Homo sapiens: one gene and its partners. The protein of the gene in region 2 purifies or fractionates together with the protein of the main gene of each other region. This does not show direct contact. Each region holds a gene or a part of one and is shown on either strand. Other genes may lie near its edges.

The links.
Region 1: the proteins of ATP6V1A (region 2) and ATP5F1C fractionate together in Homo sapiens (co-fractionation; 3 studies listed by BioGRID). This does not show direct contact.
Region 3: the proteins of ATP6V1A (region 2) and VDAC3 fractionate together in Homo sapiens (co-fractionation; 2 studies listed by BioGRID). This does not show direct contact.
Region 4: the proteins of ATP6V1A (region 2) and CSE1L fractionate together in Homo sapiens (co-fractionation; 2 studies listed by BioGRID). This does not show direct contact.

What each region holds. Positions count from the first base shown.
Region 1 is NC_000010.11:7,798,177-7,806,561, reverse strand, and holds part of ATP5F1C (ATP synthase F(1) complex subunit gamma, mitochondrial isoform L (liver) precursor), read right to left. Parts: intron 7,573-8,385; coding exon 7,368-7,572; intron 7,132-7,367; exon of another isoform or gene 7,061-7,131; intron 6,791-7,060; coding exon 6,647-6,790; intron 6,536-6,646; coding exon 6,471-6,535; intron 4,293-6,470; coding exon 4,137-4,292; intron 3,805-4,136; coding exon 3,708-3,804; intron 1-3,707.
Region 2 is NC_000003.12:113,777,518-113,785,902, forward strand, and holds part of ATP6V1A (V-type proton ATPase catalytic subunit A), read left to right. Parts: intron 1-1,223; 5' UTR 1,224-1,236; coding exon 1,237-1,318; intron 1,319-3,532; coding exon 3,533-3,661; intron 3,662-6,706; coding exon 6,707-6,921; intron 6,922-7,178; coding exon 7,179-7,316; intron 7,317-8,385. UniProt on the Homo sapiens protein: Catalytic subunit of the V1 complex of vacuolar(H+)-ATPase (V-ATPase), a multisubunit enzyme composed of a peripheral complex (V1) that hydrolyzes ATP and a membrane integral complex (V0) that translocates protons.
Region 3 is NC_000008.11:42,400,495-42,406,437, reverse strand, and holds the end of VDAC3 (non-selective voltage-gated ion channel VDAC3), read right to left. Parts: intron 4,651-5,943; coding exon 4,423-4,650; intron 3,486-4,422; exon of another isoform or gene 3,348-3,485; intron 3,128-3,347; coding exon 2,977-3,127; intron 1,572-2,976; coding exon 1,514-1,571; coding exon of another isoform or gene 1,510-1,513; intron 1,068-1,509; coding exon 976-1,067; 3' UTR 501-975; downstream 1-500. UniProt on the Homo sapiens protein: Non-selective voltage-gated ion channel that mediates the transport of anions and cations through the mitochondrion outer membrane and plasma membrane.
Region 4 is NC_000020.11:49,069,330-49,077,714, forward strand, and holds part of CSE1L (exportin-2), read left to right. Parts: intron 1-875; coding exon 876-968; intron 969-2,956; coding exon 2,957-3,124; intron 3,125-3,238; coding exon 3,239-3,368; intron 3,369-5,455; coding exon 5,456-5,521; intron 5,522-5,988; coding exon 5,989-6,191; intron 6,192-7,650; coding exon 7,651-7,735; intron 7,736-8,385. UniProt on the Homo sapiens protein: Export receptor for importin-alpha. Mediates importin-alpha re-export from the nucleus to the cytoplasm after import substrates (cargos) have been released into the nucleoplasm.

The DNA of each region.
Region 1 (8,385 bases), on a different chromosome or scaffold from region 2:
CCTCAGCCTCCCGAGTAGCTGGGATTACAGGTGCCCGCCACCACGCCCAGCTAATTTTTGTACTTTTTTAGTAGAGACGGGGTTTTGCCATGTTGGCCAGGCTGGTCTGGAACTCCTGACCTCAGGTGATCCACCCGCCTCGGCCTCCCAAAGTGCTGGGATTACAGGCATGAGCCACTGCGCCTGGCCATATTTAGTTTTTAGGCTGGCAACTAATACTTGGACCTCGAATACTATGGTTTACTCATGTTCTTAATTATATTACTAAATAGCCAAATATGTTTATTTTGTTTTTTGATCTTTTTCTTTTCCAAGTATGTTTAAATATTCAAGTCTTGATTCAGAATAACTGATAGGTTACAGAGCATGCAAACCCATTCACAAGCAATCCAACCTTGGCACTGCATAGCTAAGTTTTTGTATAAGGATTTAGACTACCTTCCTAGGAAGCAAAAACTTAATACTCAATTTCCAATTATGTGGATTCCTTTTTCTAAATTCTTGGTTTTGTGCAGTGGCACGATCATAGCTCACCGCAGCCTAAAACTCCTGGGCTCAAGCAATCCTCCTGCCTCAATTTCCTGAGTAGCTAGGACAACAGGCACATGCCACCAGGCCTGGCTAATTTTTTCATTTTTGTAGAGATGGGGTCTTGCTATGTTGCTCAGGCTTGTCTTGAACTCCTGGGCTCAAGCAATCCACTCGCTTCGGTCTCCCAAAATGCTGGGATTACAAGCATGAGCCAATGCACCCAGCTGTTTCTGTTACTTTTAAATAGGTTTCCTGCATTTCTTTTTTTTTTTTTTTTTTTTTTTGAGAAGGAGTCTTGCTCTTTTGCCCAGGCTGGAGTGCAGTGGCGCAATCTCGGCTCACTGCAAGCTCCGCCTCCCAGGTTCATGCCATTCTCCTGCCTCAGCCTCCATAGTAGCTGGGACTACAGGCGCCCACCACCACGCCCAGCTAATTTTTTGTATTTTTAGTAGAGACGGGGTTTCACCGAGTTAGCCAGGATGGTCTCAATCTCCTGACCTTGTGATCCGCCCACCTCTGCCTCCCAAAGTGCTGAGATTACAGGCGTCAGCCCCTGCGCCCGGCCAGGTTTCCTGCATTTCTAATGAAGAAATAGGCTGGTCCTCAATTTTGCAGAAGTTGTATCATCATAGGTCATACCTAACATTCGTTTGTCAAGAGCAAAAAAACCCCCTTGGGTTCTCTGGATCTCACACAGCCCACAAACCTTCAGAATGTGGTTCCTTCCCGCAGGCTTTGTCACACTTAAGATCCAAGAACAAATCAGCCTGGCTTTAACATGGGGTAGATGGCAAGAAGGATAATGGCTAATAGAAGGTTTTAGTCCTTGTATTAGTCCCCATGTTACAGATGACAAAGCTGAGTAACAGAGAGAGTATCCTAACCAAGTTCATCAAGCTAGACACCATGAGACAGTATTCTGTGATGCTGATAGAACATTGGTGACCAGGCTGTGAATGGGTTAGTCCTAACACAGCTGTGCTTAGAAAGTAAAATAAGAGAAGAATGCTTAGGATAGCGAGGCTGATGGATCCAACTAACAACTTACACAAAGGTCTCTGTTGGCTCAAAAAGTTCTAGTTGTGTCTCTCTGGCATTCTGCCCAGTTTCTGCCCTTGAAAAGTAACACTTAAGGAACACTTTAAATAGTGATGAACTTTTCCCTGACTCTTAAAACCATGGACCCACATTTTCATACACCCAATAAAATGTTATTTGTCCCTCTTCTGAACTTCCAGTTCTGAATACATATGGCATTTCATTCATTCATTCAACATTCACGAAGGAGGTATGTACCAGGCAATGGGGACACAAAAGTGAATAAGATATGGTCCCATCCTAGCCTCGAGGAGCACACAGACAAATAAAAAGCCAATTCCTCATACAAGGCTGTAAGAGCTAAGCTAAATGGAAGACAGGATGCTGCAGAAGGCTGCCTCACTCAGACTGAAGGAAGGAGTGTTTTCTGGAAGAAAGGATTCCCCCAGCTGAGTAAGGAAGGATACACAGGAGGCAGTCAGATGAAGAATCAAGGGAGCAAGGGAAGAAATAGTGGCTTTTCAGGCTGCAGCACATGCCACTCCCTGGCCGCGAGAAAGAGTGACGAATCTGTAGATCTGGAAGTAGATCAAGGTGGCTGAGGTTCAAGGACGTGAGAAATGGTAATGGTAAGAGACTGGACTGGGAAGAGTGCTGGTGACCAGAAAATATAGGATCACATACATCGAGTGTTTCTGCAGAATGAGTGTATAACAGAGAATGGATTTTGTTATTTTCCTCATAACACTGTCACAAGAATAGGCAAATTTTTTCGGTGAAGGGCCACACAGCAAGTATTCTGCACTCTGTGGGTCACACGCTATCACTCTCCTTTTTCTTATATCCCTTTAAAAATGCAGAACCCATTCTTAGCTCCAGGCCACAGTTTAGCAACCTCTGTTCTGCTGTGACTTCTTATTTAGTGTCTGCCTTTACTGTGAAGACTGAGCTCTCTGAAGGCAAATACTGTTACCACTGTATCCTCAGTGTCTAGCACAGGGCCTGACACTTAAGGGGCACTCAAATAATTACCTTTTTGAACCCAGGAGAGAAATGACAAGGATCTGCATTAAGTGGGCATAAAGAAGGGGGAAGATTCAAGAGATAGTTAGAAGGTAAAACTTAAAGAGCATGGTAACTGATTAGCAGGAGGTAAGAAGGAACGAGTCAAAAAGAACTTACTACACGTTTTATCTAATCACAATTACTTGTATGTTTCTTATCCTATTAGAATATAAGTGCCTTAAAAGAGAGAATCACATCCTTAACACTGTGTCTAGCACTGTACTGTGCACATAGTGGGTATTCAACTTAATAACTTTTTGAATAAAATTCCCATTATCTTAACCTTTTTTTCATAAACATTAAAGTTTTTCAACAACTAAGAAATTTTCTTGAGGAAAGCAGTATATAGTTGGCCCTCAGTATCCATGGATTCAACCAACAGCCGATGTAAAATATTTGGAAAAAAGACAAAAATAATGATAAAATAATAAAAACAAAAACCAATACAACAACAATTTACATAGCATTATAACTAGAGATGATTAAAAGTATACGAGAGGATGTGCATTTTTTATATGTAGTACTGTGCTATTTTATTTCAGGGACTTGAGGATCTTCAGATTTTGGTATCCTGGGGGAGGTGAGAGTGAGTACTGGAACCAATCCACTGCAGATACTGAGGGATGGCTATACTATCTTTTGGTACTGATATAGAAAACATAATGATTAAAAAACATAATGATTAAAAAATTCCTGGACCTTCCCAACATGCAATGGTTTATAGATTTATGTAAAACCAAATCTGAAACTAGCCCTGTAACTCAGAAAGCTTGGCTTACAATTGTTTAAATTCCAAAAAAAGATTTCATAAATGATACTGAATTATCCACATCCCATTCCTAATCCTTTAGAAAACCGAAAACTAAGCCCGAGTGTTTCCAGCTGAAACAATAAAAATAAAGCAAAGAGGTCCCATTTTTACCACATCTTTATAGCCTAAGAGTTAGGATGCAAGTTTCAGCAATGAGTTTCAACTTCAAAAGAAAAAAACGAAAAACTTTTAAGCATCCAAACAAGCAGACACAGCAAGAGGAAAAAAAATTCTCTGAAGGCGACAATCTACAATTACTCACAGAGCTGCAGCACCAGAGATAATTTCAATCAACTCTTTTGTGATGACAGCTTGGCGGGTACGGTTGAATGTCAATGTCAATTTGTCAATCATCTCAGCTACAAACAAAACAAAAACACTACATAAAAAATCTGAAACTAGAGTAGAATAACTTGTTAACTAACTTCTGTTGCTTAATTTAAAAGTAAGAAATTTTTGGATACCAAAATTGGCCTCTCAAATAATGTTATGAAGATATTTTTACATCTTCCATAGGATACCTTTTCACAGTACTTGCAAATCAACTACCTATCAAGATATACTTTCTTACAGGTACAGGAATATCATGTTAATGTTGTTGATGCTACTCTCGGCCACGGACTCCTCTCAGCTGAGATTCACTGTGTGCTCACAAGCACTCCTGCTGGCACTGTCCATACTGTGTACTTACAAGCATTCTTGCTGGCATTGTCCATGGCTGTCATCCTGGCACTCTGCTCACTAGTGGTGGACTCCTTCAGAGAGTAGTAGATGATGTTGGCCAGATTGTATTCTTGGTAATTTTGCAGCACGTCAGCATCAATATCGTCATAGATACTCATGCTGTCTGTTAAAACAAGTGATGAGTTTCTTTCAAGTTATATGGAAGGAATAGTAATTCATCAAAAACAGCTTTTCAGTGTAAAACTCCTTTATAATTACAGAGCAGAAATTAATGCTAGATAAGGTAAATGAATCTGTTCTAATAATGTCATCTATTTCCACACTACAGATGATAGCATATTTTTAGCAAAATATAATGTGTAAATAAACCATTTGATATTCTACTCCACATGTGTAACTTTAGAAAAATTAGGTCAACATTTGAAATAACTGCACTATATCTCGTGGTTATGAAGCCCTCTGGACAGCATTAGCATGTGCCTGTTACAAAGCCAGCAAGCACTCAATGCTTTTTCCAGTAAAAAAGAATAATAATGAATTGAAACGAATTTAGTGTAATACAGGTTGAGCATCCCTAATCCCAAAGTCCAAAATCTGAAGTGCTCCAAAATCTGAAACATTTTGAGCACTGACGTGATGCCACAAGTGGAAAATTCCACACCTGACCTTGTGTGATGGGGTGCATTTGAAACTTTGTTTCATGCAGAAAATTCTTTAAAATATTGCATAAAATTGCCTTCAGGCTATGTGTATAGGGTGTACAGACTCAGGTCCTGTCCCCAAGATACTGCATTATAAATATGAAAATATTCTGAAATCCCAAACATTTCTGGTCCTAAGCATTCACACAAGGGATACTCAACCTGTGCAGTAATTCCAACTTAGTCATTTGATTACTGAAGAAATCTGAATGTATCAATCTGGAAAATGAGAGAGGGAAAACCTTTCAAAGCACATGAAAGAGTGGGAGAACTAGAAATTGGTATGAATCGTAGTTTTAATGTTGTAGAAATTTAGAAGTACATTTCAAAATTCATTCATTGGGGTCAAGTGGTGACACAGTACTATATATTATCAAAATACTATATTTCATTAAATGGTACTGGTTGTAACACCTACTTTATTTCTCATTAAGAGAGAAAAAAATGTACTCAATTATAAATGATGTTCCATTGGCTGGTAGAGCCATCTCAATTTCAGAAACATTAACGTGTAAAGTACATACTTGAAAATAAATGAAGTATTAGAAAATAGATGGTATATACAAGGGAAAAAAGCCTTAGAAAACTAAAATCAGTTCCAGAATATTATTCCAGGATGCTTCAATGATCAATGATGACTTTATTCCAACAATAAAACAAGAGAATTGAGTCAGTCAATGTAAATTAGCTGTGAACACTGTTCAACTCTCTATTCTAGAGCTTCTGTTTTATTGTAGTTAGAGGTCCCAAACATAACTTGCAAAGCCAGTTTCTAGCTACGCTCTTCAATCCTTGAGGACAAAAAAATCTAATGATGAACCTCAATAGATACTGACTTTTCAATTAATGACAGAATAGAGCAGGAGTTATCAAACAATGACTGAATTAAGTATCATGGAAGTCAAGAGATGGCACTTCTCAGAAACAGCCCCAGATCGGCCGGGTGCAGTGGCTCATGCCTGTAATCCCAGCACTTTGGAAGGCCAAGGCAGGTGGATCACTTGAGGGCAGGAGTTCAAGACCAGCCTGGCGAACACGGTGAAATGCTGTCTCTACTAAAAATACAAAAATTAGCCAGGCGTGGTGGCGTGCACCTGTAATCCCAGCTACTTGGGAGGCTGAGGCAGGAGAACGGCGTGAACCCGGGAGGCGAAGGTTGCAGTGAGCCGAGATCATGCCATTGCACTTCAGCCTGGGTGACACAGTGAGACTCCGTCTCAAAAAATAAAAAATAAAAAAATAAAAGGCTGGGCTCATGCCTGTAATCCCAGCACTTTGGGAGGCCGAGGCGGGTGGATCACGAGGTCAGGAGATTGAGACCATCCTGGCTAACATGGTGAAACCCCGTCTCTACTAAAAATACAAAAAATTAGCCAGGCTTGGTGGCGGGTGCCTGTAGTCCCAGGTACTAGGGAGGCTGAGGCAGGAGAATGGTGTGAACCCAGGAGGCGGAACTTGCAGTGAGCCGAGATGGTGCCACTGCACTCCAGCCTGGGAGGCAGCAAGATTCCATCTAAAAAAGAAACAGCCCCAAATCATTTGCTATAGCTACCACCAGATATCTTGACACTGTCTGCCTTAGTGTACAAATCTCTCCATTCTATATGCCAAAAAATATGTATCATAGAAAAACTACTTACCAGCACTTGCAACGGTATTAAGGGAAAAGATGGGCTTTTCTTCTGTCTTATAGGAGATGACAGACCTAGAATTGACAAAAACAAATGTAAATCTCAAAATAATTTTTAAACTGTTATTTCAAAATATGAACAAAAGCATGAACATAAAAAAGCTTTGATTTCTAAATCTGTCTTGCCTGAATTTATTAAAGATGATGGAGCCTTCATCAAATTCATATCCAGAATTTAGTAATTCAAGGGCAATGACTGACGCATCTCCAAAAGTGGGGGGCTTTCTTCCCACTTCTTTGAATGCCACCAGAAACTGGTCAGAATGAGTCCTATAAGAAAAGCAAGAGCTCACATAGCTAGTTTAATAAGATTTCTGCTGAAAGAGCACAGGGGACAGGCAGGAGAAAACATTGTCACCATGGATCAGGTCTTTTGGGGTATGGGTGGTGGTGATTTCCTGAGTTGTTCCACACACTATCATCATTCCTTTCCTTCAGCACCTGCAAAGAACTAAGAACTAAAAATGAGGTCTGTTTTATATTCTTTTCCCCTTTATTCCTCTCCTTCTAATCCTAATGAACTATTGCTAACATTTCCAGGCTGTAACAGCTCCTCAGATGCCTCATTTGGCTTAATGCTGATAGCTTTTGATATTCACATGGCATTCAACTTATGATCCGGATGAAGAAGCAAAGGTAGAAAACAGGGGAAGGAAAACAGAAATGTTCCAATATATCCTGGAAAAAAGAAAAAGGAAACAAACACCCCCTTGTGAATATACCAAAAAAGGCCCTGAAGAATATACCTTGTTATTGATGAAGGTTTTGAGAGTTTGTCAAAACTTTTGAGAGAAGATTTATTCGTGCTTACATCTTTATGAAAATAAACAATATATATTTAAATTACCTATAAAGTATGCCTCTGATTTTGTCACCAATTCCAACAAGCATAACTTCTTTCCCAGCTGCTGTTAGTGTAGCAACCTCGCTTTTCATCTGTTTAGCAATGGAGGAATGAATAGCACCACACAGTCCTCGATCTGAGGACACACCAATAAGGAGGTGTTTCTTCTTGTCTTCAGGCCCCTTGATATCAGCTTTTTCATACAGAGCTTAAAAACAAACAAAAGCAGTAATTTTTTTATATGCAATACACTAAATACAATAAATCTCTAATTTACAAAGCAGTTGGTTATTTCCAAAATACGCATTTAAATTTAGCTGGCAACTGCCTAGTGTAAGCAGGTGTTCTTAGGACAGCTGTAAGCTGAGGCCGGGCACAGTGGCTCACGCCTGTAATCCCAGCACTTTGGGAGGCCGAGGTGGGCGGATCACCTGAGGTCAGGAGTTTGAGACCGGCCTGGCCAACGTAGTGAAATCCCGTCTCTATTAAAAATATAAAAATTGGCTGGGCACGGTGGCTCACGTCTGTAATCCCAGCACTTTGGGAGGCCAAGGCGGGCGGATCACAAGGTCACGATATCAAGACCACGGTGAAACCCCGTCTCTACTAAAAAATACAAAAAAATTAGCCAGGCGTGGTGGCGGGCGCCTGTAGCCCCAGCTACTTGGGAGGCTGAGGCAGGAGAATGGCGTGAACCCGGGAGGCAGAGCTTGCAGCAAGCTGAGATTATGCCACTGCACTCCATCCCGGGAGACAGAGCTAGACTCCGACTCAGAAAAAAAAAATACAAAAATTAGCCAGGTGTGATGGTGGGGGCCTGTTAATCCCAGCTACTGGGGAGGCTGAGGCAGGAGAATCGCTTGAGCCTGGGAGGGGGAGGTTGTAGTGAGCTGAGATTGCACCATTGCACTCTAGCCTGGGCAACAGAATGAGACTCCATCTCAAAAAAAAACACAAAAAGAAAACAAACAAAAAACAACAACAAAACACACACACACACATAAAAAAACAAAGGACAGCT
Region 2 (8,385 bases):
GGCCAAGGCCAGAGAATCACTTGAGTCCAGGAGTTTAAGACCGGCCTAGGCAAAATACTGAGATCCTGTCTTCACAGAAAATAAAATTAGCCAGGTGTGGTAGGACACACCTGTGGTCCCAGGTACTAGGGAGGATGAGGTGGGAGGATCTCTTGAGCCCAGGAAGTTGAGTTGGCTGTGAGCCATGATCACACCATTACACTCCTGCCAAATCGACGGAGACAGACTGTGTTAGAAAAAAAGACCTGAAGGAGGTGTAGGAGCAGATACCTTGGAGAATAACATTCTAAGCAGAGGGAACAACCTGTACAAAGGCCCTGAGGTAGAATGTGCTTGTGTTTTTGAGAGCTGACAAAGAGTTCAGTGTGTATCTGCAGCATGATTAAGTGAAAGAGTAGCTGGATAAGTCAGAGAGGTCATTGAGGATGGGCTTGTTGTGGGGGTGGATAAGTTATTGAAAAGACTTCACATTTTTTGTTATAGTTATCGATATTTCCTATGAAATACCTCACATAGAGATATAATTCAGTTGTGATAAAACCATCCAGCATCCAGGAATAGGGTACTTTTAACTACATTTTAGGAATTTTGGCTGGGTTCAGTGGCTGGCTCACGTCTGTAGTCCCAGCACTTTGGGAGGCTGAGGTGGGTGGATCACTTGAGGTCAGGAGTTTGAGACCAGCCTGGCCAACGTGGCAAAACCCTGTCTCTACTAAAAATACAAAGATTAGCCAGGTATGGTCACGTGCACCTGTAATTCCAGCTACCCTGGAGGGTGAGGCACAGGAATTGCTTGAACTCGGGAGGCAGAGGTTGCAGTGAGCAGAGATCCTTCCACTGCACTCCAGCCTGGGTGGTGGAGTTAGACTCTGTCTCAAAAAAACAAACAAACAAACAAACAAAAAACTAGTTGGGCATGGTGGTACACACCTGTAGTCATAGCTACTTGGGAGGCTGAGGCAGGAGGATCGCTAGAGTCCAGGAGTCTGAGGCTGCAGTGAGCTATGACTGTACCACCACACTCCAGCCTGGGTGACAGAGAGCCTCTTAAAAATTTTTTTTAAATTAAGAAAAGGAATTTTTTTATTCTACTTTGAAGAAGTATAATAACTCAAGAATACACCAAAGATGAGAGTGGTCTCATCTTAGTGGACTACCTATATTTTGGGTCTTTTGCTTTACGGTTTATAATTATAACTTATTTATTTATTTATTTACTATAGGTAAACTAACATTATGGATTTTTCCAAGCTACCCAAAATACTCGATGAAGATAAAGAAAGCACATTTGGTTATGTGCATGGGGTCTCAGGACCTGGTAAGTAATACATCATAATCTCAAAATAAGGATATCTAACTTTGATTAATGTCTTTTCAAAATATTTTACATAGAAATATACAACTTTCTGTTTACCTGCATAAATTCTGTTTGTCCTTAGGCGATCTCATAGTGACTATAAGACCGAAGTAGAATCTCTGTCATAAGGGCTCATCTAGCATTGATTATCTAAATTTTATAATTATTGAGGTACTACTTTGTGATATCCTGTTTATAATTATGTAAATGTTCAACCAGTGTTCAGTTTTATATGTCTTAATTTTTTGTTAAATTTGAGGTAAATAAACTATGAAGTTTATAGCTTTTAATATGTAATACCTTGCATATAGCAGGCATTCAGTAAATGTTAATTTGCTTTGAACTTTAATAATTCAAACGCTCAGAGCATTTCTCAGCAATATTAGCTTTTGCCCTTTGCATTTATGAAACTTTTTGAATGGTTATTTTAAGTGTCACATTATTAACTACCTGTGGGAAAGAAGTCTTAGGACCCAAACTTTATGTCCATTCTGCCAAAACATGGAGTGCTGCTTTTTAAATAATAAATCTTACGCCAGTATTTGTTTTGTTATTGAATACTCCCACTACACAATGTGATTCACAGTCACAGTTTCTCTAAGTAAAACCTGGTCAGTGATGTATTATCCTTAAAACCTCATGCTATATAGTCTTTTTCTTGTTCTAGTTAGAGTAGTGGTGATGACAGTTTTTTGATGTTTACGCAAATGAAGACTGTCAGTCACTGTGCCTCTTTTTTCTCCCCCAAGAACTTGGTGTTTGAGCTTGATTTCATTGGCAGGTCATTAAAAGGTTATCAGTATCTTTTGCCATGCAGAGAAATAATTGTCCTCTCAATGATCATAAGGGTCTTCAGGATGGACAGACTAAACCCAAGAACCTTTAGAGAAAAGGCAAAAGAACATCAGAGAGTTTAGGAAAAAATATTCTGTGAAACTGTGTAGTAAACTGCTCCTGGAAACAATTTTTATTTTATTTTAAAAATTTTTTTAAATTTTACTTTAAGTTCTGGGATACATGTGCAGAAAGTGTAGGTGTGTTACATAGGTATACATGTGCCATGGTGGCTTGCTGCACCTATCAACCTGTTACCTAGGTTTTAAGCCCCACGTGCGTTAGGTATTTGTCCTAATGCTCTCCCTCCCCTTGCCTCCTGCAATTTTTAATTCTTAAGTACTTAATAAGGTAATGGAACAATGGCATCCTTTTTTGGCTTATGAAATATGATTTTTAAATTTCATTATCTCTGGTATTTCAGTGCATCTTAATTCTTAAGTAGTCGGCATAGAGGTAAATATTTATAGAATGAATAAGTCTTCATTGTTTTTACACAGGTTAATTAACTCATAAAGCTTTAATAGTTTCCACTGAAGTATTACCTATAACATAGTTCTAATCAGTTGTATCAGAAGGCTAAATATTAAAAATTGGTTTATTCTTACACGTGTCTAAAAATATGGCAACCTTCCTTCCCTGCTAGAAAAGTAATTTTTGCTTACTAGACCACATGGTCCAAAATAGTAAGTTCAGTAAATGGAATTCCATTGACAATTTCTTACCCAATGGTGGTGACTGATTATAAATATCCTTACGGCCTATGAAAAAAATTTTGTAGATGTGTGTGTGAGTTTTTCTAGTAGAGCTATTATTAGTTTTTGAAAAGGGTCCATGTCCCAGAAGAGTTTTAAGAACTACTGCTATAAGTTATTAGAAAGTAAACATGTTGCTTTAGGTCTGTCTCTCAAAGGAAATGGTAACAGCACAGCGAAGTGATAATTGTGTGGCATTCTACCATACTACTAGCCAAACCATTTATTCCAATTTCTACTTTTAAAAGTTTTTTTTATTGTTCCAAAGCCTTCACTCCATGTATCATAGCAACTCTCAGAACATACCTGAATCCTACCAGGTAAGTTTGCCATGCAGAACTTGAAATGTTTGAAAAGTTTTCATGTATATTATGTAAATAAATAATCTTTGGCTTACCTCTTTATATTATACACTAAAATATATATCTATGTGAAACTACCAGTATGTTCCATAGTAGGTTTTTATCCTTCTTATGAATATATGAGAGAGGCACAATACTGGGTTTATTGGGTGTTTTAATTATTTGTGACTATTCACAGAGCACTAGAGTCTTAAGTCATCAAAATAGTCTTTTGTTCTCTTCAGTGGTTACAGCCTGTGACATGGCGGGTGCAGCCATGTATGAGCTGGTGAGAGTGGGCCACAGCGAATTGGTTGGAGAGATTATTCGATTGGAGGGTGACATGGCTACTATTCAGGTGTATGAAGAAACTTGTATCCTTTTTGGCTCAATTTCCTGCCACTTTCTATATTTCAAAATTTAAGGATTTAGGCCAGGCATAGTGCCTCACACAAAGTAATCCCAGCACTTTGGGAGGCAGGCAGGTGGATCACCTGAGGTCAGGAATTTGAGACCAGCCTGGCCAACATGGTGAAACTCCATCTCTAATAAAAATACAAAAATCAGCTGGGTATAGTGGCAGGCGCCTGTAATCCCAGCCGCTTGGGAGGCTGAGGCAGGGGAATCGCTTGCACCCTGGAGGTGGGAGGTTGCAGTGAGCAGAGATCGCACCACTGCACTCCAGCCTGGGCAACAGAGTGAGACTCCATCTCAGAAAAGAAAAAAAAAATTGAGGATTTAAGCCAAAGGTGGAAGCAGCAAAGCAGCAACAACTAATGATATTAGAAGCATGAAATGCTGGTGTTGTGAAGAGACCTGAATTATGCAGGAGTATGTTAAAGAAAGAGAGAAAAGTACTATGAATTGGTACTCTTATTTTAAGAAATTAGTATCTTCTGAACTTTCATTGCTCTTACTGCTTCAGTAATTCATGAACTTAAGGGGGACCAAGTGAATTTTTTCTTCATTGGGACGCATATTGTAGAAGAAAGCGTAAACAGAATAACAATATTGACTTGTGAGGTTAAAATTCTCTAATTATGATTTCAGTTTAAAATAGTAAGTCCACAAATAAAACGGTCACCATTCTTTTGATAGCACTGAGTGACATATTACATTTCAGTTTTATTACTAGGAAAGCTTTACTATTTGGTTATCATAATTTTGGCTTTTAAACATAGTATTTATTTTCAATTTTCTATGAAAAATAAAGGGTTAAGCCTAGTGAAGAAGAACCACTTTTTTAGTGCTTCTATATGTGTTTTACTTTGATTCTCAAAATCAGCATTAATTCTTTGAGTATTTAATCAAGATTTATTTGGTACGACGTTTTTGCCATTCTAAAACACATGCGTGCAGATAACTAGTCTCTTTATAGTACTAGGTGCCAATTTAAAACAAAATCATCTAGAAATTTTAAATAAAAATAGAAGTTTTTGTAGCTATGAAATTGTGACTAATCAGAAATATTTTTTCTATTTTTACTTTTATCTTTTAATCTGTTTAATCTTTTTCATGGCTTGAAGATTTAAAATAAATGAAAATGTAAACAGTGACAACCCTCCTTGCCTTTGTTGTCTTGTATCTAGCCGTTTATCAAAACACATACACACCTCCATGCACACATGGAACCACATTTATAGCTCCCTTTATTTTATATCCTTCTAGTTTAGTAATTACATACATGAGCAAATACAAATATTTGTATTTTTCTTTCCTTTCTCTCTCTCTCTCTCTCTATATATATATATACATGTGTATATATATACGTATATATATACACATATATATATATATACATATATATATGGTTTTTTTGTTTGTTTGTTTGCTTTTTGAGACAGAGTCTCACTCTGTCGCCCAGGCTGGAGTGCAGTAGCATGATCTCGGCTTACTGCAACCTCCGCCTCCCAGGTTTGAGCAATTCTCTGCCTCAGCCTCCCAAGTAGCTGGGATTACAGGCACGTGCCAGCATGCCCGGCTAATTTTTTGTATTTTTAGTAGAGATGGGGTTTCACCATCTTGGCCAGGCTGGTCTTGAACTCCTGACCTCACGATCCACCTGCCCCGGCCTCCCAAGATAGCATATTTTAGGTACTGTTATACACCTTGCTTTTTTTCACTTAAAAGTATGTGTATTCTAGAAGATAAATAGATATGTGATAAATATAGTAAAATGTTAAATATAGAACCTAGCTTGTAGAGACTGGGAGTCCACTGTAAAATTCTTTCAACTTTGTTGTTGTTCTGAAAATTTTCATAATCAAAATTGGAAATGAAAATACATAGTTTAGAGAGATTTCTAGAGGAATTCATGATAACTCTGGTTCTTTTTTTTACAGCCATATAACAATTCCATCATATAAATGTACCATTATTTACTTATCAATGTCTTAATGATAGAAGTTTTGGTTTCTAGTTTTTGGTTGTTATAAACAGTGCTACATTGTAAGTATAGTAAGAATTCACAGAAGTTGGATTCCTAGGTCACGACTTACCCATTTTGAATTTTGATAAATATTGCTAAATTGCTCTCAGGAAAAGTTGTACTGATTTTACTCCTGTCAACAAATGTGTAGAATAAAGTGGACTCATTATGCTTATTTATATATTTTATTCTTATTTGTATGTTTTCAAAATAACTTTATTCTTAAGATTTTAGGTTTTGTCCAAGTACTAATACCCTTATTAGGGGACTGATATTCCTCAGCAGCATATGTGAAGCAATGTATTAATGAGGGAGTTTTGCTTCTGTTTTTAGCCCTGTGGTTCCCAAACTTTGCAGAGTCATTCTGAGAAGCTGCAGCAAACTCATGTGGTGCCAGGATATTTAAAATTTTTGAGGCAAACACAGGAATGTTAGACATATTGTCAGACACCACATGAACTAGTAGCTTGAGATAATAAACAGTTTCATTATGTTGCTGTACTATATTTTTGTCAATGATGTCATATCTTTGCAAAGCTGAGTTTTTGGCAGTTGCTAAGCTACAAAAGCAGGTATCATGTGACAATCAAAATGGAACAAGTTTCCAATCTGATTGCAAGATTGGAAAATTATATAGTTCCCCAAGGGCATATACATTCATGAGAATTATGGATATTTAGGACTGAAATTAATATTATTTTTTCTTTCAACTTATGCATATATTTTTTCAAATTGCTACTCAGTTGTTAGGACGTATATACATATTAGGTTGTTTAGACATAACTGTTTAATAAATGCAAGTGTTAGATATATCTTTTGTCCTGGGACACTGAAAGAAGTTACTGAAAACACTATGAATCCTGTGAACTGAGAAAGTTTGGGAACTTCCGTTTTCACTTCTTGAGTGGCATTTCCTTGTTAAACTGTGGTATTTCCTGTTAATTGTGTCTTTAAACCTTCATAGTAGGTTTTCCTTAGCTGCTGTTTTTAGCTGGTGTGTCTGTTGGAGATCCTGTACTTCGCACTGGTAAACCCCTCTCTGTAGAGCTTGGTCCTGGCATTATGGGAGCCATTTTTGATGGTATTCAAAGACCTTTGTCGGATATCAGCAGTCAGACCCAAAGCATCTACATCCCCAGAGGAGTAAACGTGTCTGCTCTTAGCAGAGATATCAAATGGGACTTTACACCTTGCAAAAACCTACGGGTATGTCTGTGTAACCAAGAATTTCTGAAGTTATTGAAAGAATATAAAATGAATGTTTAGTAAACTACATTGTACTCTTAGTCCAAATAAAAATAGACTACAGAAGGATAGTTTAAAGTTTTTCTTAACTCTACTTCATGGGATTTTAGAACTAATGTTTTATTGATAAGTCAGGTAATTGATTTAAATTATAGCAGCAGGGGCAAGTCTACTTGACATTTATTTGCAAATTAAACAGCAAATACATTTATCTCTAGGTTGGTAGTCATATCACTGGCGGAGACATTTATGGAATTGTCAGTGAGAACTCGCTTATCAAACACAAAATCATGTTACCCCCACGAAACAGAGGAACTGTAACTTACATTGCTCCACCTGGGAATTATGATACCTCTGTAAGTATCATTTGAACTTTATCCTGCAGAGTGCCTCTATTTCTATATGATAGCTGCCCAGTTTTAGTGCCCTAAGTAATTAAAGAATTGATATTTAATACATAAGTTTTGAGTAACTCCTATAATTTTTGAAAGTTTTTGTTTGTTTATTTTTAACTTGGATTTAGGGATGAAAAAGCAGAACATAGTATTTCTTTTTAAAGAAATGTAACAGTTTTCTACCATATTAACTGATGCTACATTTATTTAAAGCCCTAGTTGTTTAGGCATAGAATAGACTTTGATTTTAATGGTGTATCAATATTCACATAGTAATTATATAATGGGACCGGGCATGTAGGCTCACGCCTGTAATCCCAACACTTTGGGAGGGCGAGATGGGCAGAGCACAAGGTCAGGAGATCGAGACCAGCCTGACCAACATGGTGAAACCCTGTCTCTACTAAAAATACAAAAATTAGCCAGGCGTGGTGGCGCACGCCTGTAATCCCAGCTAGTTGAAAGGCTGAGGCAGGAGAATCGCCTGAACCTAGGAGGCGGAGGTTGCAGTGAGCTGAGATCGTGCCATTGCACTCCAGCCTGGGTGACAGAGCGAGACTCCATCTCAAAAAAATAAAAATAATTAGTATTATTATTATATAATGGATTATTTGAATTCTCTTTTTTTCTTTTCTTTTTTTTTTTTTTTTTTTTGAGACAGGGTCTTGCTGTGTTGCCCAGACTGGAGTGCAGTGGTGCAATCATAGCTCACTGTAGCCTCAACCTGCTGGGCTCAAGCAGTTCTATCACCTCAGCCTCCCAAGTACCTGGGACCACGGGCACATGCCACCATGCCCAGTTAATTTTTTTTTTTTGAGATGGACTCTTGCTCTGTCACCAGGCTAGAGTGCAGTGGCGCGATCTCGGCTCACTGCATCCTCTGCCTCCTGGGTTCAAGCGATTCTCCTGCCTCAGCCTTTCAAGTAGCTGGGATTACAGGCCTTTACTTATATTTAACTATTTCTTTGTTGCTTAATATACTTCTTTCTTTCTTTTTTTTTTTTTTTTTGTTTTAGGAGATGGGGTGTCA
Region 3 (5,943 bases), on a different chromosome or scaffold from region 2:
AAAAAAAGATTTTCAAAAGGAGTTCTACTTTTAGGAAGATGATTTACCAGTGAGCCCTGAGGATTTTATAGTCTGCTCATTTCTTCTCTAAACTGGTACTTCATTCCTTGGTTATCATTTTTCTATACTAGTAATCAAAAATCATGTTTCTGAAGCCCAGGAGGAGTCCCAGAAGTGTCCACCCAGCTCTGGCCTCCTCCCACCGTCTCTCCTCCCCATGCTTCCCCAAATGCACTCGTCCCTCAACTGTCTTTTCACCCGCTCACATCCACACTTTCTCAGCAGCTGCACACAACTCCCGGGGTGAAGCAACCCTGTCACACCACAAGCACAACAGATGTGCCACTCCCCAGCACAACCATGTTCACTGCTTCCTTCCTCAGCCTGCCCTGTGAGAGCAAGAGAAGAGCAGGGGTCAGTGAAGTGAAAGGGACAGACGGCAGCCCTGATACTTTAGACACAAATCTCGCCTGTGAAAGTGCTTCTTAAAACAAATCACATCAAGGTAAGAAAACCATCACCAGCAAGTCACATGAGCAGTTATGTTCCAAATGTGATGGGTTTATTTTATTTTACTATGATGCAAAACCAAAGATTCCACTATAGCACAGAGACCAGTATATTACAAGGTCATGAAAAAATGGTGTGGGACATGCAGGACGTGATGTACAAACTGGTGGGTCAGATCGTCTCCTCTAACATGACGCTACACTGTCGCTGAGGAACACATTTAATAACACTTCAGAACTGAACTGAAACGTGGCACAAACATGACAACTTCCAGGCATGCCTTCAAGCATCTCCCTCAGGAGGGATTCGCAACCCCTAGACTTCAGTGTGGGGAGGATTACAATTCTTTGGAAGAATAAAAAGTTCACACTTTTGAAATTTCACAGAAGAATTTTAAGGCCAAAACATAGTGGGTTCATTTCTCTTCACTTCCAGGGACAAATCTGATGCTTTCCTCAAACCACATTAAGCTTCCAGTTCAAATCCCAAGCCAACCTTGTGACCTCCTGCACTGAAGTTCTTCCCATCGATTAAAGCTGATAAAGTCAATTTGACTCCTAGGAAGAAGAAAACACCACAATCACTTGAAACAAGTATTACAATTAGATCTGAACTTTCTAGAAACAACAGATGGAATCAATGGTGTGGATTGTAGCTGGGTATACGAGCTATAAGCAAACAGCTATTACTCAATCGGTTATTTATAACTATCTGATGTGTAATGAGGAAAGCATGATCATGGCAAACTTTCTCTGAAGTTCAGGGTTAAGGGCAATGAGTGATCAACCAAACTCAAAGGCCAAAGTGACCACATTATAGTCAGAAATACATACTTTTTTAATGCAAAAGTATTTGATCTGTATTGTTTTCTGTCTGAACAACCAAATGTTACAAAATGGTCCAAATCAACTTACAGTGACTACAGGTTGTTCTGCAGGTTATTTTCATTGTTTTCTCTATCACCTTCCACCTCAACCCCTCTGTTACTAATTCCTTTACTTACCTGGTCGAAGGGTCTGAGTATAACCCAGTCCAATCAGGCTGGCATTATTTACTTTAGCCTAAGATTAAGAGATAGAATAATAACAGAAAACAGTGAATTACAGATCAGTCCAATATAACCATCACTTTGTGCATTAGGTTTCCAATGCTAAAAGCACCCTAGGGCCAATCTAGAATTACTGATTTTTTTTTTTTTTTTTTTTGAGATGAAGTTTTGTTCTTGTCACCCAGGCTGCAGTGCGATGGCACGATCTCGGCTCACTGCAACCTCCGCTTCCCGGGTCCAAGCCATTCTCCTGCCTCAGCCTCCCAAGTAGCTGGGATTACAGGCATGCGCCCCCATGCCCGGCTAATTTTGTATTTTTAGTAGAGACGGGGTTTCACCATGTTGGCCAGGCTGGTCTCAAACTCCTGACCTCAGGTGATCCCCTGCCTCAGCCTCCCAAAGTGCTGGGATTACAGGCGTGACCCACCGTGCCCAGCCGGAATTACTGATTAAGAAGTCAGTAGGACTTGTAGGGGTAGGACGTACCCTGAGAATGCATGCTTCAAGGCCTCAAGCAAAATTTTTAAACACTACACAACCAAACACCCTGAATTCTCTGAGATACCAGCTGACAATCTCTCACAGTGGTTACGGCATGAACTTGGGTGACAGAAAAACAGACCTAGGTTCAATTGTGGCACTGCCAGTTACTATGTGACCTTAGGCAAGTTAGCTGACCTTTCTAAGGCTCAGTTTTCTCATCTGTAAAACAGGGATGAGGATAACACTAATCGCCACATGGAGTGGTTGTGAGCGTTAAATGACATAATATACATAAAGCCCTTAGCACAGTACATGAAATTTAACAGCTCAGTGTTATTTTTAGTAAGAGTTACTATAGCAACAGAAATAGTCATCTAATCCCATGAATTTCCAAATAAGAAAATTCTGAGGCCAAAGTGATAAAATGACAAGGTCAGACAACAGATATACAGGAAGAGCTAGGACTAGAAGAACCCCTATTTCCTGACGTCAAGCATAATTTTTTTTTTTTTTTTTTTTGAGATAGGCTCTCGCTCTGTCACCCAGGCTGGAGTGCAATGGTGTGATCTTGGCTCACTGCAACCTCTCCATCTGCAGGGTTCAAGCAATTCTCCTGCCTCAGCCTCCCTAGTAGCTGGGACTACAGGCGTCACCTACCACGCCCACCTAATTTTTGTATTTTTAGTAAAGACAGGGTTTCACCTTGTTGGCTAGGCTGGTCTTGAACTCCTGACCTCAGGTGATTCATGCACCTTGGCCTCCCAAAGTGCTGGGAATACAGGCGTGAGCCTGGCCACATTATATTCCTTTCACTACACAATGAGCTGGCTTATTAAAATTAATAAAGAACAAGCAAACTACACTCATATCACAACATTCTCTGAAAACTTAGACACAAACATAAGAGCAGATCCAATCTGGCAGCACATTCTTACAGAGAGAGAAGTTCTACAATCCAGCATGTACTTAGCAGCAATGCCAAAACGGGTGTTGTTACTCCCAGCTGTCCAAGCAAGGTTTATGGATGTTTCAATCTTCTCATTCACCTTCTGGTAGATAGAACCTCCAAATTCAGTGCCATCGTTCCTGTTTTCATAGATAAGAAAACGTCATAAATATCTAGTTTGTACCATTGTTATTATGGTATGAAAACAAATTCTAAGACTATCTAAACAAGGATCCCATTTTGTAACTATAGATTTCAGCAAATTTCTAGCATAAATGACTACTAAACAAAACACAGAACTAAATCCAGCTATGCCAGTAATGACTGCTTAATTAAAACGTTAACACTTGATCCATTTACTTGGCTCCTCCACATGATGTGAGTTTCTTAAGACAATTCAATTAAGCACAAAGGCAGACACCTCGGGTAAGTATAATCTATAGGTCTCTGAGAAGTTCATAGAACTTAGAAACTTCAAAGTAGAGTTCAATAAAGATTCTGCAAAAAAATAAAAAGGTAGAGGTATAGGAATAAAACCAATTCTGGATTTCCTTTAAAACACAATCCTACAGTTAGAAAGCACCCTCCTACGATACCTAGGGTGCACTGCTCCAGAAAACCACCTTAGTTATTGCTTCCAAGCATGCCAGAGGTGAGTCCTTGGGTTTTCACATGGTTTTCCTGATAATACTGTTTCATCAATTTCAGTAACTGTCTATACCACTGCTTGCCTTTGTTTTAGCCATCATAAGTAAATTAGAGCATCTAGCAGAGAGGAATCTGCAACAGTTTAAAAACACATAGTTTGCCCTTTGCTTTTTCTTCCTGGTATAGTAGCAGTGTCCAGTAGGCTCAACATAAAATACTACGTAAAAGTTCTGATTCATCCCACCAACATGGTGCAGCCTACATAACTGAATCCCAGGACTCTTTCAGAGCACCTGTTACTTCTGAATGCATTAGCGGTACCTGGGTTCCAACCGAGAATACCAGTACCTGAAACCTCCACAGAATTACCGGGATGTCCCAGGATGCTCAGATCAATTTGGTGGTGGTTGTTGGTGACCAAAACAGACCTGCTTCCAGATACTGTCAAGATGAGAGGGCAGCAGAGGAAGCAGTAACATCTCCAAAGGGTCATCTTACCATGAGGTAAGCCATGCTCTGGGCTCCCTCTATCCCAGTGGTTCTTCTACAGAGGCTGGAGCTTCCTCAAGTTTGGGGTGCAGGCTGAGGGGCCAGTGACCACCAGCAGCACAGCCTGCACACCACGTGCACCAGCCTCCTGGCAAGGTTTTGCTATGAGGATAGCACCGCAAGGATGGATATTCACCAAGGCATGCTAAATCTGAGTACCATCACTTCTCAGCATGCTAATGGCTACAATATTTTGGGCAACTGCACTGATACTAAGGAATAAATTATAAACACTCACACATGTGTGTGCAGCTGGAAGTCCGCAGCCTTGTAACCCAGGGCGAAATTATTCTGTGACAGTTTGGATTTGGCTGTGTCAAAACTCATCTGATAGCCAGCAAGCCACCCTTCGAAGGCCAACACAGCCCAGCCATAGATGGTTGGTCCAGAAAAATCTATATCAACATTACTGCCAACACTAAAACAATCCCGTTTATAGGAGGCCTTCAATTTCCCACTCTTCTTTCTGCAATAAACAAACAAACAAAAGCAAATGATGAAAACAACATGAGTTCTTACTACTGTCTAGGAATTTTTAGAGTAAGATCCTCTCTCTCATCTCCCAATGTAAATATTATTTTGGTACATGCCACATATATAGTAAAAACATTTCAAATGACCTAGTTCTACAAATATAATTTTGTTAGGATTAGACATGTATAGACTACTATCATCTATTACTCATTATAAGTTCAAATGATAGGATACTTCATGATTTATTTCATAAAAGCATGAACAAAAGTATAAGAATGAATAAGAGGCTGGGTGTGGTGGCTCACACCTGTAATCCCAGCACTTTGGGAGGCCAAGGTGGGCGGATGACGAGGCCAGGAGATTGAGACCATCCTGGCCAACATGGTGAAACCCCGTTTCTACTAAAAATACAAAAATTAGCTGGGCGTGGTGGCACACGCCTGTAGTCCCAGCTACTTGGGAGGCTGAGGCAGGAGAATCACTTGAACCTGGGAGGCAGAGGTTGCAGTGAGCCAAGATCATGCCACTGTACTCCAGCCTGGCGACAGAGCGAGACTCGTCTCAAAAGAAAAAAAAAGAATGAATAAGATATTTCAGTGCCAAATTAATAATCTGAAGGTGTATGTATACAGACGTACAAGAAGCCAAATCTCTTTAAATGTTTCCAAATGCCAAATGCCACAAAGAATTAATCCCCAATATACATTATTAACCTATCATGGAGAGAAGCATGCTTTTTTGAAGGACAATACTGAAAAAATGAAATTAGTTCTTAATAACCCTATTCCAATCAAGCCTCTTGTAGGAATATTTGTCCTGGCCGGGCACAGTGGCTCATGCCTGTAAGCCCAGCATTTTGGGAGGCCGAGCCAGGCGGAACACGAGGTCAAGACAGAGACCATCCTGCCCAACGTGGTAAAACTCCGTCTCTACTAAAAATACAAAAATTAGCTGGGCGTGGTGGTGCATGCCTGTAGTCCCAGCTATTTGGGAGGCTGAGGCAGGAGAATTGCTTGAACCCAGGAGGCAGAGTTTGCAGTGAGCTGAGATAGTGCCACTATACTCCAGCAAGACTCCATCTCAAAAAAAAAAAAAAAAAAAAAAAAGAAAAGAATATTTGTCCTAAAGATAACTGAAGTGTGTGGCAAAAAGAACACACCTGTTGTTACGGCTGAGACAAATGTCACTTTGCATTCATCTAGCAACCTCCGTCCTTCAGATAGCATGGACCCACATTAGGCAGATAGGAAATGACACAATCCCCCTTTTTTTCACGAGGAAATTG
Region 4 (8,385 bases), on a different chromosome or scaffold from region 2:
GCCTAGTTACCCTGTTGCTACTGAGATAGTGGCCTCCAATCATTCTTTCTGTTCTTAATCATTAATTCAAGATTCAGGACCAAGAAAGGGGTGTTAATTGGTACAAACTGTTGCTATACTGCGATGCAAGGAGGGCCTAGCCCATTCATTGTTTGTAGCCAGTACCTGGACTTACCTTCACAACATGAATAAACTCATAGTGGTAGGGAAAGCATTCCCCAAAAGGAAATTGGGTTGTTTTAGCTAGAATAGGAGATGAACAGCCCAAAAGGACATGTCCCACATCAGTGTTCAGCTGGATAGCAGTTTGAGAAGTTCTTACTTAAATGAGTACTACTATTTTTGCTTACACCTTTTGAATTCTGAGAAGTCAGGTTTAATGAAGCTCTTGAGAACTTGTCTGGCAGGGAGACCAAGGAAAGAGGCATAATCTACCCTCAGGGGACTTGTACCCTCATTAAGAAGGCAGTACTATGCCACAAGAAATCAGTAACTAAAAGACAATTAGTTTATCTGCCTTGGTGGTCATCTTACAATAAACGTAGTTCAGAAAAGAAAGGGGATGTATTAGTATGCACTGAGCTTGAGCTTTGTAAGGAAAGTCTTCATATAGTCTTAGCTGAACCTTGAAGGAAGATTTAGATTAGGATGAGAACTAGAGGTGGCATCATTTATAGCATACAAACAGAGGCAGAAGTCAGAATGCTTTATGCAGCTGCCAGATGTAGCTGGAGCAGAGAATTCTTGTCAGAATAGGTAATGCTCAGGCTGTGAAGCCTGTGTATAAAATGTTTTGTCCACGTGGTAAGGGAACTTATAAAAGTGGTGTTCTTAATATTTTAATCAAAAGTTTCAAGTCAGTGTTTATTCTGTAGGATCTCCCTGAATTTTTTGAAGATAATATGGAAACTTGGATGAATAATTTTCATACTCTCTTAACATTGGATAATAAGCTTTTACAAACTGATGTAAGTATTTAAAATGTTGCCTGAGTGGTCTTTTTCTTTCATTAAGAGTTATTTGGCTACAGTCTGGAAACCTATTTACTCTTGCATTGTTAAAAGATAAAATTTCAATACTGTAATAATATTTGATTCTATTTGATGTTACATGTTTGGTGTGTGTAGTATACAGAATTACTCTTATCATGGGCTTGGCTTAAGCCATAGTGTACATATAAGGCTGTTTCATTACATTATTGAAAGTAGGTCTTTAAAGTAGTGACATTATGGATATTTCATGAAATAAAATTATTTTTCATTGAAGATACTAAGAAAACTTAAAACTCTATAATGGTAGCCCCTTTTTAAAAATCATCTGGCTAGGCATGGTGGTTCACACCTGTAATCCCAGCACTTTGGGCGGCCAAGGTGGGGAGGATCCCTTGAGCCCAGGAGTTCAAGACCAGCCTTGGCAATGTAAGGAGACCCCCATCACTACAAAAAATAAAAATAAAATTAGCCAGATGTGTTGGCTCATGCTAATGGTCACAGCTACTCAGAAGGCTTAGTTGTGAGGATCCCTTGACCTTGAGCCCAGGAGGGCAAGGCTGCAATGAGCTGTGACCATGCCACTGCACTCCAGCCTGGGAGACAGAGGGAGACCTCGTCTCAGAAAAAGAAAAAATTATCCACAGCTCGAGAAAGAGAGAAAATGGTAAAAGATTGTAATTTGTAAATATTTCTGATATGGGTTTTATATTGTGTACTTTTAAACATATAACACTTATTCTGTGCTACTCATTTGTTAATATATTTATGACCTTCTTTCCGAAGAGACAAAAGACAAAATATTAAAAATATTTCAATACCAAATAAACTAAAAATTAGAATTGGTGATTCAAATCAGGTTTTAAGAGTGGGGTACAGAAAGAAATTGTTACTATCGTTGTACAACAGATTTTGTCTCAGAGTTTGACTATATTAATAGGAACTTTAAAAGATGTAGCTCTCATAAAATAATTATTTCAGTCCAATGGGAGGGAAAAACACTCCTTCAGAAAACAAAACTTTTCTTCACACAAAAGTCACAAGGAAATTTTTTGGATAGAATTCTTACAAGGACCTTTTTGCCCAGTTAACCATGTGCTACCTTGTGCTACTATTTATGCCTTAAGTAATCAGTGTGAGGGAGTTTTGGTTTTGGCTTTGGTTTTTGTTCTTACTCTGATGTCTTCCCTTGTCTCACTCTGTCACCAAGGCTGGAGTGCAGTGGCATGATCATGACTTACTGCAGCTTCGACCTCCCTGGGCTCAAGTGATCCTCCCACCTCAGCCTCCCAAGTAGCAGGGACTATGGGTATGCACCACCATGCCCAGCTGATTTTTTTTATTTTGGGGGCTTGCTGTGTTGCCCAGGCTAGACTCAAAACTCCTGGGCTTGGCCCGTCGCAGTGGCCCACGCCTATAATCCCAGCACTTTGGGAGGCCGAGGCCATCCTGGCTAACACGGTGAAACCCCGTCTCTACTAAAAAAAAAAAATACAAAAATTAGCCGGGCGTGATGGCGGGTGCCTGTAGTCCCAGCTACTTGGGAGGCTGAGGCAGGAGAATGACGTGAACCCAGGAGGCGGAGCTTGCAGTGAGCTGAGATCGCGCCACTGCACTCCAGCCTGGGCAACAGAGGGAGACTGCGTCTCAAAAAAAAAAAAAAAAAACCACTCCTGGCCTCAGGCCATCCTCCAGCCTCAGCCTCCCAGAGGGTTGGGATTACCGGCGTGAGCCACTACACTCAGCCAGAATATACTGTTTGAATCTAATACGGAAATATTTTGTAATTCAGCAACTTATTTGAAAGACTTGGTGAAAAGATTGGTGGTGGCATAGCTGTAGTTTACAATAACTGATTTGATTTGGATTTAATTGATAAAGAGTCTAGTTCAGGAATTTCAGTTACTCCTCTTACTTATGTTAGCATTAGAGTTGTATGTTGGAGTTTTTGTTTTCTTTTATGTGAGGATGAAGAGGAAGCCGGCTTATTGGAGCTCTTAAAATCCCAGATTTGTGATAATGCCGCACTCTATGCACAAAAGTACGATGAAGAATTCCAGCGATACCTGCCTCGTTTTGTTACAGCCATCTGGAATTTACTAGTTACAACGGGTCAAGAGGTTAAATATGATTTGGTAAGATGATGGTGGAGACAAATAATTAAAAGACATTCTCTCCCTATCTCCTCCAAGAAATAAGCTGTTGAGTTTTGCTTTTAAAAATATTCTTGTTTTTGTGTTTTGTTCCAGTTGGTAAGTAATGCAATTCAATTTCTGGCTTCAGTTTGTGAGAGACCTCATTATAAGAATCTATTTGAGGACCAGAACACGCTGACAAGTATCTGTGAAAAGGTTATTGTGCCTAACATGGAATTTAGAGGTAATTATGGCAAAAGTATATTAGTATAAATCTACTAAGTCTGTGTTTGTTTTTTGTAACATATTCAGTCTAATTCATTTATTACTGGATAAAACTTGTATGTCATTTATTTCTTATTTTCTAAACCAAGACAGAAAATGTAGTATCTGTAATGAGTTTTGTTGTGCCCTGTGAGGGTTTTCTCATGGAAATATTAAATAAGACTTCAAAAATTCCTTTACACTAAGAAGATAAACTATCTGGAATTTCTATTTAGAGAAAGAATTTGATTTTGTTTCATTTATTATTTCAATGAATTTTTAGCTGGCTTTATTTATTTATATATTTATTTGAGACAGGGGTCTCGCTCTGTCACCCAGGCTGGAGTGCAGTGATGCAATCTTGGCTCACTGCAACCTTAGCCTCCCAGGCTCAAGTGATCCTCCTACCTCAGTCTTCTGAGTAGCTGGGACCACAGGCACACATCACCATGCCTGGCTAATTTCTTGTATTTTTGGTAGAGACAGGGTTTCACCATGTTGTTCAGGGTAGTCTCAAACTCTTGAGCTCAAGCAGTCCACCCGCTTTAGCCTCCCAAAGTGCTGGGATTGCATTTCTGAGCCACCTCGCCCAGAAATAGCTGTTTTTAAACAATCGACTTGAGAATAGAAATGATAACTTTATAAATACAAGGTTGAAGCCCACTTAGTTTGTGCTTAAGGTTAAACTATAGTGCTAAGAGCCTATATTTATAAAATGTATGTCCTTGTTCTAACAGTTGTGAAGAACAAGTAATGAAGGTGGGAGGGATTGTGTTTTTTGTTTTGGGGACAGGGTCTCACTGTGTCACCCAGGCTGGAGTGCAGTAGCACAGTTATGGCTTACTGCAACCTCAACTTCCCAGGCTCAAGTCATTGTCCCACCCTGGCCTCCTGAGTAGCTGGGACTACAGACGTGCACCACCATGCTCAGCTAGTTTTTTATTTTTTATAAAGATGGGGGTCTTCCTATGTTGCACAGGCTGGTCTCAAACTCCTAGCTTCAAACAATCCTTCTGCCTCAGCCTCTCAAAGTGCTGGGATTACAGGCATGAGCCACCATGCCAGGCCAAGATTTTGTTTTATATCAAAATAGTTATTAGATCAGTGGTTTTCAAATTACATCTGGAACAAAATAAGGAAATTAAGGACAATATAGCGTGAGATTTTATTTCCTGTTGTGTTTTCATAAAAATATGTTTAAAGGATAAATCTTCTGGCTGGGTGTGGTGGCCCATACCTTTAATCCCAACACTTTGGGAGGCTGAGGTGGGAGGAACACTTGAGCCCAGGAGTTAAAGACCAGCCTGGCCAAAATGGCAAAACCTTATCTCTACAATAAATAAATTAGTTGGGTATGGTGGCATGGGCCTGTGGTCCCAGGTACTCAAGCAGCTTAGGTGGGAGTTTTGCTTGAGCTCAGGAGGTGGAGGCTGCAGTGAGACATGATCATACAACTGCAGTGTGTGTGTGTGTGTGTGTGTGTGTGTGTGTGTGTGTGTGTAGACTTTTTTTTTTTTTTAATTTATATGATAAAAATAGAGATGAGATCTCGCTGTGTTGACCAGGCTGGTCTCAAACTCCTGGGCTCAAGCGATCCTCCCATTTCAGCCTCCCAAAGTGCTAGGTTACACGCGTGAGCCACCATGCCGGCCATTTCTGACATTGTCCACTCTACTTATTTGTTGTTGAAATGACTTTAATGAAATAATAGTGATTAAAATTAGGTTGTTGGTATTTTAATGTTCTTATTTGGTGAAATTAAAAGTTAGCATTCTGATACTGATCCCTAACATTTTTGACAGTTGCAGGTATAATCCAATTCTGGGGAAACTGTCACATTAGAACAAGTGAGCCTATCTCATAGTTGTGTGAATTACCTAATACCTCACCTTTCAGGGTAGCATTTGCTGCTCTAGATAATGATTAAGAGTATATGAAGTAGTCATCTGATGGGAACGAATTCTTTGCTGTAGAACAAGGCAGTTTTACATACTCTTCTGCATTCTCAGCTGTAAAGTACAGTGACGTCTTTTGGAGTGTTATCTGAAATATCATCTCTCCTTGTAGCTGCTGATGAAGAAGCATTTGAAGATAATTCTGAGGAGTACATAAGGAGAGATTTGGAAGGATCTGGTGTGTATCTTGGTTTTTTAGTTACTAGTCTCTTAGCAAGCCAGTTTTAAGGTGGTTCTCTTTCTAGTAAATGGGAGAAGTGGGATTGAGAATAAGAGTGTTTTTTCAGCGGGCTTTCATTGAGAACTGTTGTCTTTCTTCAACTTGTCTTAAAAAGCTCTTATATGACCTGAATGAAAATATCAAAAGTTGAATCATTTGTCTGTTCTTACATAGTATTTATCAAAATTCTGTGATTCTGTGACCTCTTTAGTTTCATTTTGATTTTGTATTTCTTGGGGGCGGGAATGTTTTTTTCATTGTTTGTGTTGCTGATAGCTATTGGGTGGCCCTTTGTTTTTCGTTCTTTTTTTTCCGTTTTACAATCGTAGCCAAATTATTCCAGGCAATTTGTTTTCTTATAAATTGGATCAGCTTGTTGGTGGTTGTTTTTTTTCCCCATAATATATTTTCTTTTCATTTCATAGATATTGATACTAGACGCAGGGCTGCTTGTGATCTGGTACGAGGATTATGCAAGTTTTTTGAGGGACCTGTGACAGGAATCTTCTCTGGTTATGTTAATTCCATGCTGCAGGAATACGCAAAAAATCCATCTGTCAACTGGAAACACAAAGATGCAGCCATCTACCTAGTGACATCTTTGGCATCAAAAGCCCAAACACAGAAGGTAAATATTTTTAATGTGGTTTTGTTTCTAAAACAGACATCAGTGACACCCACACAAGTCAAAAAGAAATAACGTCTCTGATAATAGAGCTTACTCTGCCAGATAACCTATTCTGATTAAGATTTATATAATCTCTGAAGATGGCTTTATGTTGATGTATTGAGCACTTAAGTTTCTTATAGACCAGAAAATTGATAGATGGCCACACTTGTTACCTTAGCTGAGACCCGCTGTATCAAATATGCTTAACTTAAACTTAGCTGTTCTTTAATTGAGGAAAGTTTCTTTATTGTCTATTAGTATAGTCTTATTTTACATTTTTATATTTTTGAGATGGAGTCTCACTTTGTCACCAGGCTGGAGTGCAATGGCGTGATCTCAGCTCACTGCAACCTCCACCTCCCGAGTTCGAGCGACTCTCCTGCCTCAGCGTCCCAAGTAACTGGGATTACAAGTGTGCACTACCACACCTGGCTAATTTTTGTATTTTTAGTAGAGACAAGGTTTCACCATATTGGTCAGGATGGTCTCAAATTCCTGACCTCGTGTGATCCTCACACCTCAGCCTCCCAGAGTGCTGGGATACAGGTGTGAGTCACCGTGCCTAGACAGTATAGTCTTATTTTATATTTTATACATAAGCAGGTTGTGTTTTGTTGTTGTTGTTTTGTTTTGTTTTGTTTTGAGACGGAGTTTCGCTCTTGTTGCCCAGGCTGGAGTGCAATGGCACGATCTTGGCTCACCGCAACCTCCGTTTGCCGGGTTCAAGTGATTCTCCTGCCTCAGCCTCCCGAGTAGCTGGGATTACAGGCATGCGCCACCACCCTGGCTAATTTTGTATTTGTAGTAGAGATGGGGTTTCTCCATGTTGGTCAGGCTGTTCTTGAACTCCTGACCTCAGGTGATCCACCTGCCTTGGCCTCCCAAAGTGCTGGGATTACAAGCATGAGCCACCATGCCTAGCCTAAGCAGTTCATGTTTTGAAGTGTCCCTCTCTCTCTTTTTTTTTTTTTTTTTTTTTTTTTTTGAGACGTTGTCTTGCTCTGTCATCCAGGCTGGAATGCAATGGCAACATCTCAGATTACTGCAACCTCTGCCTCCCGGGTTCAAGCAATTCTCATGCCTCAGCCTCCCGAGTAGCTAGAATTACAGGTGCATGCAACTACACCTGGCTAATTTTTTGTGTTTTTAGTAGAGACGGGGTTTTGCCATGTTGGCCAGGCTAGTCTTGAACTCCTGACTTCAAGTGATCTACCCGCCTCGGCCTCCCAAAGTGCTGGGATTACAGCCGTGAGCTCCTGTACACAGCCAGTACAGTCTCATTTTATACATAAGCAATTTGTATTTTGAAGTGTTCATCTCCATTTTAACATGGTTTTCTAAAATTGCCTGAATTTCTAATGTGATAGATATATACAGGTATTTTGTTATTTTACTATGTTATGAATTTGCTTTTCAGCATGGAATTACACAAGCAAATGAACTTGTAAACCTAACTGAGTTCTTTGTGAATCACATCCTCCCTGATTTAAAATCAGCTAATGGTGAGTTGTGAAATTCTTGCTTTTTTTACAGCTTGCCACACTATACCTGAATTCAAAAAACAGCTTCCTATCCTTGTTCCCTTTTGTTCTTTTTTTTTTTTTTTTTTTCTTTTGAGATGGTGTCTTACTCTGTTACCCAGGCTGGAGTGCAGTGGCACAGTCTCTGCTCACTGCAACTCCTGCCTCCTGGGTTCAAGCGATTCTCCTGCCTCAGCTTCCCAAGCAGCTGGGACTACAGGCACGTACCACCATGCCCGGCTAATTTTTGTATTTTTAGTAGAGACGGGGTTTCCCCATGTTGGCCAGGCTGGTCTCAAACTCCTGACCTCAGGTGATCCACCTGCGTCGGCCTGCCAAAGTGCTGGGATTGCAGGCGTGAGCCTCCATGCCCTGCCTATTATTTCTTTTATTGAATAAAATCTCAAATGGTTTCCCCAGATCTTGTCCATGTGAAATTAATTATTGATAAAGAAAATATTGCTTGATTAGGAGGAAAATAGGAATAAATACAACTAAACTGTAACTCAGCTTTGCTACCTAGTGTATAAATAAGGATTATACATTGGCTTCCTTTTCTTTTTTATTTGAAAGACGAATTCTTAAAAATTGGAGTACATTTCAAAGTACTAGAAAATTGATAAATATTAAGG